Linked DNA regions of Homo sapiens: region 2 is linked to region 1. Evidence: fine-mapped expression QTL. Tissue or cell type: whole blood. Region 1 holds a variant in brackets; the other region holds the start of a gene. All regions are shown on one strand. Distances are from middle to middle.

Region 1 (7,541 bases):
TAGAAAGAAGACAAGCACTCCACCATCCACACCCCACACAGAGAGCATCACTGCTGACAACTGGGTGCATTTCCCCCCAGCCTTTCTGTGGTGGTGGGTGGGCATCTGCAGACCCCAGCTCCTGCTTCCATCTGAGGCCCTGGGCAGTCTCTGCTGTCACCTAATGCCAACCTAGAAACAGAACCTTGCCCCTTTTAGCATCTTCTCCAAGGACTGACCTAGCACAAACGCACTAGTGAGTGTACAGTGAGAACACCCCTGAAGGCCTCATGGGGGAAGCCAGTGTGGGCTTTCCATGGCACTCTCTACTGCAGGACCCCTCCGCAGACCCCAGCACACAGCTCCGTCCCCCAGCTCCCCTTCTGTTTTTTATCCTCCAGAATGAGGGGCTTCCCTCTTTGACCCTCATTCTGCCTCTCTGGCCCCCTCCACCGACTTGATTTTCCCTGGGCCTTCATGCTTCATTCTTTGTCACTCCGTACCTCCATATGTCTCCTTGCCCCACCTATGTGCCCATCAGGGAATCCATCAAACAAGACCTTCCAGTACAGGACCCTCTCCTCTTACTCAGGGGGCATCCTGGGGGTTTTCTGTTGTTTCTTGAGCTTGCCCCTTGGGATTGTATGCCCCACTCTGGAAAGCTTCTGCCCAATTCTTACATTAACTTGCATCAGCTGATGGACATGTACTAACTGTTCCTCCTTTATAAACATGGACCAATACTGCACATGCTGTTTTGTAATCTGCTTCAGAAAACAACATATCGGAAGCAATTTTGAAGAAAACATGTCCCACCATCAGCTCTGTTTCGAGATGGGCAGGGCTGTCTCAGGAGGTAGTGAGCTTCCAGGCAGTGTGGGCAGTCAAGCAGGAGCTGTGGGACTATTGCCAGGGAAATTGGAGGGTGGGCTAGAAGCCCCCCAAATCCCCTTGCTATGTGGTATCTGTGGGGCAATGAAAAGGGCAATACCTGGAATATTCTGGACTGGCTGGTGAGGAACCCCCAACCAGAATGAGAGGTCCGAGCAGGAGCAGCTGGATGCTGGCTTCTGGAGAGAGTGGTGGCTCCTGCCTGGCATATGTCCTAGGCCTGCTGGAGCGTGAGAAGGACGCTCAGCAAAGCACAGCCTGACCTGGGCCTTTTTCCAGGTCTACATGTTCAAGTGCGTGTGGCGGTGCTACAGATTGATCAAGTGCATGAACTCGGTGGAGGAGAAGAGAAACTCCAAGATGCTCCAGAAGGTGAGTGTGGCTGCAGGTGGGTGCCAGCCCTGTCACTAACTCCCTGTGCCATTTGGGTCAAGTTTCCTTCCCTCTCTGGACCTTGGTTTCTCTATTTGTAAGATGAGGGTTGGAACAGAAGAAATGTGTTCTCTTTCAGTTCTGGTAGTCTAAGATTCATTCACTCACTCATTCATTTATTCAGTATTTACTGCCTCTCACTCTTTGCTAGTCTCATATCGATTCCAGGAGGCGCAGAGAAAACTAAGATGCCACCTCTGCCTTAGAGGAGTGTACAGTTCAGACACATAGATACAATTACAACTTGGTGTGAAGCACAGGGACAATAAGCACAGAGGAAGGACCTGGCCTCTTCTCAGGTATCAGGGAAGCCTTCCTGGAGGAGGTGACAGTTAACTGGTCTTGGAGGGTCAATGGATATGAGATAGCTGGGAAAGCAGAAGGAGGCTTTCCGGGAAGAGAGGATGAGGTGTGCTTAGAAGCAGCTTATTGGAAAGTGACGGTTTAAATTCCTGGTAACTTACTTTCCTCACCTGTAAGGTGGAGATTGTATTAGCTAAGACACTTTTGGTTGCAAGTGGCAGAAACCCAACTCAATCTGACTTCAGGAATTTACTAGCTCACAGAACTTAGCAGCCAAATGTAGGTCTGGCTTGGGCCTGGCTGAGTCCTGACATCAGGATATGATCTCGTCCTCTCCAACTCTTGACTCTACTTTCCTTGATGTTGGCTTCATTTTCCGGAAGCCCATCCCTTGTGGTGGCAAAAAGGCTGCCAAAACCCCTAGGCAGATATCCCACCCTCTCAGAAATCCCAACAGAAAAAGAAGGTCCCAGGAGTATGTCTGATTGGACCAACTTGGGCCACGTGCCTATCCCCAAACCAAGGACTATAGCCAGGGGGATGGAATTCTACTTTGAGTGGCCAAGTCCAGCCACCTCGCTGGATCTGAGGGATGGGACCAGTTCTTCTGAAGGTATATGGACTGAGAATGTTTTCCCAAGGAAAATGGTGCACTGTTTTCAAAATAAGGGGGACTTGATGCTGAATAGGCAAAGGCAAATATGTCCACTACAGGGCTGGGAACTGCACCTATCTCATGCAGGCAATGTCTAGCACATAGCAAATATCCAAGACCTGCCAGTCATTATCATCATCATTTTGCCAGAGGTGGGGGTTTGGGTCCCATGACCCCAGGTTGGAATTGCAGGTCATTCTTGACCATACTCAGCCCTCATCTCTCTGTCTCTCCCAGGTGGTCCTGCCGTCCTACGAGGAAGCCCTGTCTTTGCCATCGAAGACCCCAGAGGGGGGCCCAGCACCACCCCCATACTCAGAGGTGTGACCCTCGCCAGGCCCCAGCCCCAGTGCTGGGAGGGGTGGAGCTGCCTCATAATCTGCTTTTTTGCTTTGGTGGCCCCTGTGGCCTGGGTGGGCCCTCCCGCCCCTCCCTGGCAGGACAATCTGCTTGTGTCTCCCTCGCTGGCCTGCTCCTCCTGCAGGGCCTGTGAGCTGCTCACAACTGGGTCAACGCTTTAGGCTGAGTCACTCCTCGGGTCTCTCCATAATTCAGCCCAACAATGCTTGGTTTATTTCAATCAGCTCTGACACTTGTTTAGACGATTGGCCATTCTAAAGTTGGTGAGTTTGTCAAGCAACTATCGACTTGATCAGTTCAGCCAAGCAACTGACAAATCAAAAACCCACTTGTCAGTTCAGTAAAATAATTTGGTCAAACAACAGTCTATTGCATTGATTTATAAATAGTTGTCAGTTCACATAGCAATTTAATCAAGTAATCATTAATTAGTTACCCCCTATATATAAATATATGTAATCAATTTCTTCAAATAGCTTGCTTACATGATAATCAATTAGCCAACCATGAGTCATTTAGAATAGTGATAAATAGAATACACAGAATAGTGATGAAATTCAATTTAAAAAATCACGTTAGCCTCCAAACCATTTAATTCAAATGAACCCATCAACTGGATGCCAACTCTGGCGAATGTAGGACCTCTGAGTGGCTGTATAATTGTTAATTCAAATGAAATTCATTTAAACAGTTGACAAACTGTCATTCAACAATTAGCTCCAGGAAATAACAGTTATTTCATCATAAAACAGTCCCTTCAAACACACAATTGTTCTGCTGAAGAGTTGTCATCAACAATCCAATGCTCACCTATTCAGTTGCTCTGTGGTCAGTGTGGCTGCATAACAGTGGATTCCATGAAAGGAGTCATTTTAGTGATGAGCTGCCAGTCCATTCCCAGGCCAGGCTGTCGCTGGCCATCCATTCAGTCGATTCAGTCATAGGCGAATCTGTTCTGCCCGAGGCTTGTGGTCAAGCAAAAATTCAGCCCTGAAATCAGGCACATCTGTTCGTTGGACTAAACCCACAGGTTAGTTCAGTCAAAGCAGGCAACCCCCTTGTGGGCACTGACCCTGCCACTGGGGTCATGGCGGTTGTGGCAGCTGGGGAGGTTTGGCCCCAACAGCCCTCCTGTGCCTGCTTCCCTGTGTGTCGGGGTCCTCCAGGGAGCTGACCCAGAGGTGGAGGCCACGGAGGCAGGGTCTCTGGGGACTGTCGGGGGGTACAGAGGGAGAAGGCTCTGCAA[G/A]AGCTCCCTGGCAATACCCCCTTGTGTAATTGCTTTGTGTGCGACAGGGAGGAAGTTTCAATAAAGCAGCAACAAGCTTCTGTCTGGCTGATGTGTTTCTGGAAATACAGTGTAGGGAGGGTGGAGACCAGCCTTCTACCTCCATCACCCCAGGACTCACCCACACCCCCTACACCCACACCCCTCCACACACTCACACCCACCCCCACACACCCACAAATACACCCAAACACCCACACTCCCCCCACATACCCACACACTCACACCCTCCCCACACCCCTCCACACACTCACTCCCACCGCCTACACACCCACACACCCCCCATATACCCACACACTCACACCCCCCACACCCCTCCACACACGCCCACCCCCACACACCCATGTAAACACTCACACATACCTAGTTGCTCCATCCAGAAACTCCTCCCATGGGCCATGCTGAGCGAGGGGTGGTCCTGACCCAATGCTGTCTGATCATGAACCACAGCCCAAGATGATGCACCCTGATGTCTCCCTAATCAGGCGTGCACTCCACTCCCCTGGGGCTGGGTCCTGCTCTGGACACTGGGGAAGACCTCAACAGATGAGACTCGCCTCCAGTTCCCCCCAGTCTGCGGTAGGAGGGACAGATCTGCAAAAGGGCTGCCACGATAGGGAAAGCCTAGGGGACCTCAGACGTGGCCTGAGGGCCAGAGAAAGCCTCTTGGAGGCTGTCACCAAGTGGAGTCTGAAGGATGAGAAGGCAGCAGTAAGCAGAATGGGAAGGGTGCTCTAGGTCTAGGTAGCAGGACACGCAAAGACTCTATGGCATTGGGGAGAGGAGCTGGGGCGAGCTGCTCAGCGTGGCTGCAAGTGGGGAGGGGAGGGAGAAGAGGTCGGCCCGCTGTGGGGCTGGGTCAGGAAGAGTGTTTGCACACAGTGGGGCTCTTTAGGTGCAAGCTCACCCTGGCTAAGTTCAGCCAAGAAGGGAATTTACAGGAAGGACATGGTTGCAAGTAACAGAAGCCTTATGAGCCAAGTTTATTATGAGAAACCAGAAGGTGGTTCACGATGTTTCTTGGCTCTCATACAAATAAAAAATCCAGGGATTTTTGGCTTCAGGTATGGCAGGATCCAGGACTACAACTCTTTAATAATGTCTCTCTGTTTCTCCATCTCTTATCTTTTCTCCCCGGTGTGGCTGAGCTGTTGAGGACTTACCTGAAAGTAAAGTTAATAAAGAGACCAGGGCTGTTTGAATTGGGATCTGTCACCAATACCAAAAGAGCCCTCAGAGCCTTGAATGTCACACCGAGGAACATGGACTAATCCTGAGACAGGTGTCTTTGAAGGATTTTGGGCCAAGGAGTTACAAGGTTTGGGTTTTAGGAAGGAAGAGCCCAAATGCAGGGACCCCTACAAAGGCTGGGGAAGTCATCCTATGGGGCGGCAGGGACGGGGATGAGTTTGAGAGGCATTGTCAACCTTCTGGTGGTGTCAGTTTTTTTGTGGAATGGCAGATTTCTTCATGGATGTTATTTGCTCCTTATCAGACCCCCAAGCAGTTGGTGCAGTGTAATTCACAGAAATGGAAAGCGAGCTCCTGTTCACACTTGAGGGCAGAGGCCCAGAGACATCAAGTGACTTTCCTGAGGCCACACAGTGGTCAGAGATGAGACCAAGCACCTTTTTTTTCTACTCCGAGTGGAGGCTTTTAGACGGGCTGGGGCCCAGTCTGTGTCAGTTGTTGCTTCTTGCAAAGACCCATGGGAAGAGGGCCCGCTGAGAAGCCCCGGCAAGTGTGGATTGGGAGCAGAGGTCACGGGAGGAGAGACATTGGCCCAGCCTTGCATCCTATCACAAGGAGATTGAAGGGCCATGGCTGCGTGTGTCACAAGGACCAGGAGGCCCTGAACTTCCCGGCGCGACTCTCCCGTCCTTCCCGCCTTCCCCGACTCCCACCTCTGGCCTGGAGCCGAAGAACAGGCTGAGCTGTGTAGTGGGATTGTGCCCTGTGGCCAGGCAGCTGGGAGGGGGCCACCCGAGGGACAGGAAATAGCTGGGTTTGGGGAAGTCCGCATGGCTAGCCAAGCCAAGCGAGCCCACGATCGCCTGGGCAGCCCTCACTGAGGCCCTATCAATGCCCCGTTTGAGGCTCACACAGGGGTCCTTTGACGGGGCTGCGATGGTTTGGACCCACTGACAGCGCCTGTTTGAGCTTCATGCCTGGAAAGGAGCCGGCCCCAGGACAGAGGGGGCTGCTTCCAGGCCTGGGCAGGTGAGGGCAGCCTGGAGTGGTTGTCTCTTGGAGGGAAAAAAGAGCTGGTAAAATTAAACCTGGGGTGCTAAGCGGGGCAACTTCAGGTTTCTCGGGAGCTGTGATGGTAGCAGGAAGGGTCCCCGTAATTGAGTGGGCCCTTCAGTGTGCTGGCTCCACAAAGCTCCCAGTGGCCTCACGCAGCAGGTGCTGGGTGGTGATCATTCCTGAGGTTCAGGGAGGGGCTGCCTCTGCCCACAGTCACGCATTGGCCAAGGGGCAGACCTGGGCTTGGACTTCAGTCCACCCAAATGGACCTGAGCTTGTCTCTCTAGACCTTTCTGGGTAACCTCGCCCTTCCTCTGGGAATTTCTACCTCACAAGGCCCTCATTTAATTCCTATTCCAGGCTCTGAGCCCTCTTGGGAGGGCCCTGGCAGAAGCAGGAGGCCTCAGAGGCAGCAGGGAGCTTTTGGATGTTGCGGACCCTCGGATGGTGGTGCCCAGCTCTGAGCAGAGGATGCGAAACGGGGGATGGCAAAGGATGCATCGCGTTTTGGTGGGGCTAGATTTGCGCTTCCTTGGGGGACATATAATGGGAGGTGCTCAGGAAGCAGCTGGGTCTCTAGGTCTGGAGTTTAGGAGAGCGAGGAGGGAGGCAGGTTGAGATGTGAGTGCTATCTTTGGACATGTGGGTGGGATATCAGGTTGGGCTGGTATCACCCAGGTGTTAACCCATCAGAAGGATGTGCTGCTGCTCCGTGGCCTCCCCAGACAGGCCGGCAGATGAAAGCACACGCCTCCTCACCCTGGATTCCAGTTTGGCTGACCATGCGTGGGGCCTGAGACCAAGATAGCACATGGGAGGTGTCATGAACCACATGTGACACCTCAGATCATGGGGTCTGTGGCCCGAATGGGGCCTGGGCAGGAGGAGCAGCCCAGCTGCACTGCAGGCTCCTGGATGGGGCGATGAGCATGGCCACTTTGCAGGTGAGGAATCTGCCCTGTGACTGTGGGCCCCTCCACATCTCTGCCTGACTTTTGGGAAGACCAGAGATTCATGTCCAATCCGGTACTCTGGCAGTGTCTCCAATTTGCAATGAAACCGTTTAAGTGTCAAGAAAAGCAGTCAGGTTAAAGGAAGTCAGGGGCAGGACCCACCCTCGGGTTCTCCTTGGGTCTTTGGGTGGCAGCAGGGCCTCTGCGGAGGGTATAAGCAGCAGCCACTGTGTGTCTCTGCAGCCACAGGCCTTGCCCGCTGCCCTCCCGGATGGGCTCTCTGGGAACCAGTGCTCACATTCCAGTCTGTCTCCCGGGTCCCAGGAAGAAGTCTCCCTAATTAGCCACCAAGAGCACGCCGATGGTCAGTGGGCATAGCAGAGAGCTGCTGGCACGAGGGAGCCACAGTTCTAAATAAATAAACAACATCCACCTG
Region 2 (7,541 bases), 25 kb before region 1:
ACGACTTGGCTGGGGTCACACAGCAAGGAAGTAAGGGCTGCACTTGTGCAGATGGGGACTGTGGTCTCGGTGGAGTGTGTTGGGCTCCAGCGACGGGGCCCCAGGCTCAGCTGTTGCTTCCACTGAGCAGCTGTATTTGTTCCCTGCGGCCGCTATAATAAAAGACCAGAAACACAGTGACTACAACAGACATTTATTGTCTTACAGTTCTGGAGGCCAGAAGTCAGGAATGCGCCTCGCTGAGCTAAAATGAAAGTGATTCCCTTTCGAGCCTCTAGAGGAGAAGCCATTTCCTTGCCTTTTCCAGTTTCTGGATGCCGCCTGCACTCCTTGGCTCATGGTTCTTCCTCCAACTGCAGAGCCAGGAGTGTGGCATCTTCCACTCCCTCTCTGACTCTGATCTTCCTTCACTTATGGGGACCCATTTGATGACCTCAGGGCCATCCAGATAATGCAGGATAATCTCCCCACCCACCTCAAGATCCTGAATTTCATGGCGCCTGTGAAGTTTCTTTGCCATGTAAGGCCATGTACGCACAGGTTCCAGAGATTAGGGTGGATTTTTTTTGGGGGGTGAGAGGCACTATTCTGCCTATCACAGTGGCTTTGGCCAAAGGGTCTGACCTTTGGGATAATAGCCGTCCTCTCCACAGGGGGTTTGTTGGGAATGACAATAAAGTGATTCAGGCTTGTACTCCACAGGGAGTGACTGAGGTGCCTGCCAAGGGGCCAGTGTGTGCTGGAGCCTGGTGACCCGGTGAGAGACAAATGACTGCATCAGAACTCCTGCTTCTGCGAGGGAGGTAGTGCCCGAGGGGACTCAGAATCAGACAGATCAGGGGTTCAATCCCAGCTCTGCCTCCTCCTAGCAGCCTGAGTACGGGTGAGATCGGGGAGCAGGGACGGGCTGGAAGGGAGAAAACAAACAGATGCATTCACGTGACCTCATTTCACCTTCACCGCAGCCCTGCCAGGCAAATTTCTGTTCCCCCCAACCGCCCCGCCGTTTTGCAGAGGTGAAAACAACAGCTCAGAGAGATCAAGTGCCTTGTCTGACACCACACAGCTACTAAGTGGGGAGCTGGGATTCCCCATGCCCCAGGATTCCCAAACGGATGCCACCTACTCCACCTCCAGGGCTGTCTGCCACATCTGCGTCCTCCTAGGCTGTGGCTTCCTTAATATGTTCTTTAAATTGACTTACTGCCTTTTTTATTTAAATGCATTTCTTTTAAAATGAGACTTTATATTACTCCTATAAATGGAAAATCACAGGATTCATGGACTAGTTATGTATATTTTTATAATGCACATTAAAATGAATTTATCACCATAAAAAATGAGAAATGTTTACCCATAGACCATGTACAATTATTCCACATGCTGTCAGTGTGTTTCATCCCTCTCTTTGGGAGTTGGCTTTGCACCTGTCCTGGTTTCACCAAATCACAATGTTATGAATGGCTATCATTTATTATGGTAGGAAATCGTCAAATGGCTTCTGTGCACAATCAAATGCAGACTCCCCAGCATGGCCTCAGGGCCCTCCTGGCCCCTGGTTTCCTGATCTCCAGTTCCTCTGGTCTTGCTACTCTTAGACAAAGGAGGACTTCTCTTGGTTTTCTGCCTACCCAGCCAGAAGATCCCAGGCCATGGGCCTGTGGAGCCAAAGTTCTTAACCACTGCACTGTGTCACCTTTCTATGATGTCAGGCCTCAGCAAGGCTTATGAAGGAACAGGAACAGCCTTGAAAATGAAGTTGGGAAGGGATAGGCCAGGCCTCCCAGGAGCCCAAAGCTTGCAGAGTCCCCTTGGTCTCATTGGCACATGGAGAATGGATTGATCAAGTCCACCAATCAAGTTTTGTGGGTCTAACAGAGCAACTCCTGCCAAGTGGGAGGAGCTTAGGGACTTTCTATAACCTCTCCTGGGGCAGAAATGATGGGCTGCAGCAGTGTCCAATCCTAACTCCATGATCTCCTGGGAGGGCAGGGCTTCATGGCAGTTCCTGTCTGCTCTGCACTAGAAGCTTGGCATTGCAAAGGGGCTCAGCTGTGGAATGAAGCAGGGCTTCTTCCAGAAATGTTGCATGTACTTCCTATTCCCTTTCTTTATTGCAATATGGATAATTTATCATCTGAGGAGGGAGTAGAGATTCCAGGGTAGCTTGCCTAAGAGTTGTGGCTTATTAATTCCAACTTTTTGCAAGATCAAGGGGGAAAAGCAATCCCTGATTTTGTGTGAGTATGGGGATTGGGTCTTGAGGCCCTGAAAGTGAGGTTCGGGTCTCACAGATTGCTGTGAAGAGTTATTGACCCACCTAGAAGAGAAGCCTAGCCCAGGGCCTGGCGCACAGTTGATGGGTTTGCTTCCTGGTTATTCTTCCGTCCTTGTCTGGAGCCCTGCACGCCTCTTCGTAGCTTAGGAAGAACAAGCTTCTCCCTGCGGCTCAGGGTGAGGAAGTGGGAGAGAACACCAGCTCCAGGGAGGCTTCTAGCACCAGTCAGCCTCAGTTAAAATCCTTGCACCTTCATTGACTAGCTGTGTGACCTTGCACGAATCATTCCCCCTCTCTGTGCCTCAGTTTCTTCATCTGTAAAATGGGGATCATAATAGTACCTCTCTCAAAGGATTGAGGTGAGGATGAAAGGAGTGAATCCAGGAGCATGCCTGGAAGAGGCAGGAAATGCCTCCTAGACAATAGCTATTTTTGCAGCCAGACAGATCTGGGTTTGAATTCTGCCACCAGTGCTAACTACTGTGTGATTTGGGGCAAGTGCCTTGACCTCTCTGGACAGCTGTTTCCTCATCTGGAAATGGGCTTGGTAACAGTCCTGGCTTCCAAAGTTGGTAGTGTTCTTCTAGTAAGCAAGCTGTGTGAAACGGTGGAACCCTGGCCCTGGTGCAGAGAAGGGCATGATGACCGTGTTAGGGTCTGTCCTCTCTGGAACCCCCTCCTGGGAATGGCAGAGGGCAGTGGGGTGCTCTGAGGCAGGCTGCTGCCCTGTCCCCACTCCCCCTCCCCAGCTGCCCCGCCCCAGCTGTGACGACCTTGTCCCTGCCTGTCTAAGGGGCAGGAAGGAAGTGAGGAGGGCAGCCAGCAGCTTCCCCTTCTCTGCCCTGCTCCAGGCACCAGGCTCTTTCCCCTTCAGTGTCTCAGAGGAGGGGACGGCAGCACCATGGACCCCCGCTTGTCCACTGTCCGCCAGACCTGCTGCTGCTTCAATGTCCGCATCGCAACCACCGCCCTGGCCATCTACCATGTGGTGAGTGTGCGGGCCCCGGGTGTGTGTGCGTGCGTGCTTGTGTGAGTGTGAATGTCTGCGGTGACCCGTCATCTACGGAGCCCCACAAATGAAAGAACTCCTGCTCTCCACCTCTCTGGGGGACCCTGGGCAAATCCCTGTCCTGCTCTGGGCCTCAGTTTCCTTCTCTGTCAAATGGCTGGGGGTACCCTGGGGAGATGCCGCAAGAGTGAGGAGTAAGGGAGCTGGAATCCACTTTCCAGGCAAATGTAACTGACGTTCACTCCGAGGCTGGCTCCGTTTCTGCCTCTGTGAGATGGGGCACAGCAGCAGCCGGAAGGTTATTTGTGTGCAAAGCCAACAGCAGATGTGAAAGTGCTTTGGAAGGCAGGGATCTTGGGAGGAACGTGGGCTGGGATTGTTTGACCGGGATGTGAGGTCGGCCGCAGACACAGCCCCGATTCTTCCCCTGGGGCCTGGAGGGAGCCTGGGCCACTCGAGGGGATGAGAAGTGGGGATCTCCCCTTTGTGCCTCCAGTGGGGAGGCAGGGGCCGTGTCCTCTCAGCTTCCAGCTCAGTCAAACCACGGCCTTCTGCCCACCAAAGAGAACTTGAGACCTGTGCTAATCATTAGGGTAACTTGTCCGGCCCAAGCTCTTGTTGGGCAACTTGTGAAGTCACGGCTGTCACTGGTTCCTCCTTTCCTGGTGACTCACAGTGTGGTCTTGGGCAAGTCACAGTGCCCGGGGGCCAAGGCTGCCCCTCTGCCTGGGGTGGCTGAGGGTCAGTGTCCTTGTACTGTCCTGCCTAGACCCACCCTACTCCCAAACTCCTGGCCACACTCATCTCCCCTAGACCCAAGCGACTTCCTCCTGGGGTGACTCAGGGCCTGTGGTTAACAGTTTTCTCATGAGTCTGGAAGGGCTTCCTCAAAATTAGCCTAGATCCACATGCTGCGGTGGGTTGCTGCAAACTCAGACCTGCCTGCGTCTGCTTCCTGTCACAGGCAGGGCAGGCAGAGCTGTGGCAAGAGCCCAGCCTTCAGGGGGGCGATGCTGTTCAGTGGTTAGCCCACGGCCTCTGGATGCAGACTCCTGCATGCAAATCCTGGCTTCCCTGCTTCCCAGCTCTGCAGCCTTGGGCAATTTACTTAACCTCTCTGAGCCTCAGTTTTCTCATTTAAAAAAATGGGGATGTGAATTATCATACCCATCTGATAGGGTTTGTTGTGAGGCTCAGGGAGTTGATACATACAAAGCATGCAGAACCACGCCTGACGCACAGGTGAGTGCTTTATTATTCGTTGTGCATCAGACATGGCACCTGCTGTCAGCATCCTTGGAGTCAAGTTGTCAGATTCAAGGACTCTAGTTTTGGGAGGAGGAACTCAGAGGTTGTCCTTCCGAGCTCCTGCCAATGCAAGAGCTGAGAGAAGCAAATCACTCTTTGAGTGTCCCTGTACCCTGTATTTTAGGCCTTCAAGCTCTGAGACTATGCACATTCTTAGAAGGACAGTGTGGCATGCAGGGGCGCCTCACAGGTAGCAAGTCCCTGGGTCCTCACCCCAGCCCTGCCACTAACTGGCTGTATGGGCTCAGACAAGCCTCTCTCTGGGCCTCAGTTTCCCTTTTATAAAGTCAGGGGTAAGGTGATGTTGACTGGCTCAGAGGTCTCCAACTCTGATGCCTCTAGGGTCTGGGCAGGCCATGTGAGTGACAGCAGGGGGCAGATGGGGCCTGCGGTGACCCCGGGAGCCCTTGCTTGGCCCACCCTGCAGCTGTTCTCTGTTTTTGCTTGTTGTTGCCACGAAGGATTGTGGGCCCTGGTGGCCGCTCTTCTGATGTTTAGAGAATAGGGAGCAGGCTTTTGTGTCACATCTTCTGATGTTTCAATGCTAGTGATTGATGCATGGTAGAAAAAAATCTCAGTGCAGGCCAAGTCAAATCCATTTGCAGGTTGTGTGGGCCCAGAGGCTGCCCTGCAAACCCGGGACTGTGGGGCTGTTAAGGTTTCTTGTTGATCGTGCCATCCGATGTCCTCACCTGTAAATGGTGGTGTGATATACGGTCCCTGCTCACAGAGCTGAAGAATGTGTGGGCCCTAGCAATCATGGAAGACTTCTTGGAGGTGGTGCCATTGGCAGGAGGGAGAGTTTGGTTGTGGGCAGTATGGAAGGTGAGGAGAAACAGGTGAGCAATGGCGTATGTGTTCGGCTTCTACAGGGACACAATAGAGACAAACCTGGAGTTTGGGGAGGAGGTGATAAAGGTTTTGAGTGACAAGCTAAGAAGTTGGATCTTCTCTGCAGTGCACCATTGATATTTTGGGCTGGATAATTCTTCATCTTGGGGGAGTGAATTGTGCGTTAGAGGAAGTTCAGCAGCATCCATGGTCTCTACCTACTAGATACTAGCAGCACTGCCCATCTCCCTACCCTGCCACTTGTGATAACCAAAAATGTCTCTAGTTATGGGGCCCAATCTCTCCCAGTTGAGAACCAATGCCTATGAGTGATGAGACGTTCTAGAGCAGGAGCAAGCAAAAGAGCAGAGGGGTGTCCTGGAAGCTGTGCGCTCGGCCCAGGTTGTCTCCAGGCTGTGGTCCTCAGTTGACTCCAGTGGGGGGTTATCTTCCTGCACCCCGAAAGAGTCCTCTCTCCTTCCCAGAAAGGGCAGGGCCTGGGGGCTTTCCCATAGGCTAGCTGGCAACAGGTGTGCTGATAGGACCTTGAGCATCTGGATGGAAAAAGAGAAGCTGTGGTCCAGATGTGTCAATAGCCCATGCTGGCTGTCATCTGGACCCAGCCATGGGTGACGACTCTGCACATCATGAGCTATTTGTGGACTTGGCCCCTCTAGGGAGGGTTAAATTGAGACCTTGCCATCCTGAGACAGTGCCACGCTCTATTGAGTCATGAGGGCGTTATTACATGAGGGAAGCCTGGTCCGTAGCTTTGGGCTCGGGCATCTTCCTCAGGATGTCAGTGGGTTTGTGTAGAGGATTCTCTGGGTCACCCAAACTTGCACACTTTGGGAACCCAGCAAACTTTCTTTCTTTTTTTAAAAAATCTATTCTTTTTTTCAAAGTTCAGTAACTTGCCCATCTTTTGTGGTTTGATTTGTTTTGTTTTGTTTTTGTTTTTAAGAGATGGGGTCTTGCTCTGTCACCCAGGCTGGAATGCAGTGGTGCCATCACAGCTCACTGCAGCCTTGAACTCCTGGGTTCAAGAGATCCTCCCACCTCAGCTTCCTGAGTAGCTAGGATCACAGGCGCATGCCACCATGGCCAGCTAATTTTAAATATTTTTTTTTGTAGAGACAGGGTCCCACTATGTTGCCCAGGCTGGTCTCAAACCCTTGGCCTCAAGTGATTCTCCTGCCTTGGCCTCCCAACGCGCTGGGATTACAGGCATGAGCCACCGAGCCCAGTCTAGAGAAATTTCTTAAATTGGGTCTCTTGGGTCCTGGCTTTTTGTCAACCTGAAGCACGTTCTAAGTCGATGGTAGAAAGTGGACACCCCCAGAAGACACTTTTGCCCAGAAATCTCTTTCTTCCTGACCCCTCTTCCCCAGAGTGCCCGGAATTCCACTGTCAGAAATGCATTGTCTGGGTTAAAAAACTTAACACCTGCTATGATTTCAACAGTGTCAAAACAGGATACGTCAAAACTGGGCGAGGAGGAAATGTATTTGGGTTCTAGGATAGTGAAAGCTCTATTTTTTCTACTTTTCTGTATTTTCCATATTTGGTACAATGAGCACGTACTTAGAACGGTTTTAGATTTACGAAAATATTGCAAACACAGTACAGATAGTTCTTGCGTCCCCCATGCCTAGTTCCTCTATTGCTAACGTCTCAACGTTAGTGTGGTGCGTTTGTTGCAATGGGTGAATGAATATTCGTGGGCTGTTATTAAAGTCAGTGCTTCACCCCTATTTCCCCAGCTTTCCTCTTACATCCTTTTTCTGTTCCAAGATTGCATCCAGGATGCCGCGTTACATTTAGTCTTCACACTTCCTTAGGTTCCTCTTGGTATGATGGTTTCTCAGATTTTTCTTGTTTTTGATAATCTTGACAGTTCGAGGAGTATTTGTCAGGCATTTTGTCAAATGTTCTTCAACTGGGGTCTCTGGTGGTTTTCTCATGATTAGTCTGGGAATGTGCTTTTGGGAGGAAGACCACAGAGATGATGTGCCAGTCTCAGAACATCGTACTAAGAAAAGGTTCTGCCAACTTGACTTACCACTGTTGCTGGTGACTTTGAGCCCCCGGCTGAGGTTACTCCTTTGTAAAGTT

What was found. PIP is the estimated chance that this variant, and not a neighbour inherited with it, causes the effect.
Region 2: it holds the start of LAPTM5, and the variant in region 1 is fine-mapped to the expression of LAPTM5 in whole blood (TOPMed, PIP above 0.99). The same link has a PIP of 0.9 or more in blood mononuclear cells.

Annotation. Positions count from the first base shown.
Region 1 is chr1:30,728,874-30,736,414 of GRCh38, reverse strand. LAPTM5 (lysosomal protein transmembrane 5) reads left to right here. Exons shown (of 8, transcript NM_006762.3): 7 at 1,150-1,242; 8 at 2,498-3,946. The coding sequence ends at 2,587. Among named protein-coding and RNA genes, the nearest start is that of MIR4420, 6.6 kb to the left of the region's middle. RefSeq lists enhancers at 2,590-3,091, 3,132-3,637, 3,638-4,143, 5,813-5,922, 6,073-6,202. The variant G/A (reference allele first, on the strand shown) is at 3,867.
Region 2 is chr1:30,753,384-30,760,924 of GRCh38, reverse strand. It overlaps LAPTM5 (lysosomal protein transmembrane 5), which reads left to right and starts at 3,151. Exons shown (of 8, transcript NM_006762.3): 1 at 3,151-3,266. The coding sequence starts at 3,180. RefSeq lists enhancers at 2,002-2,071, 3,140-3,419, 3,548-4,344, 5,010-5,059, 5,531-5,880.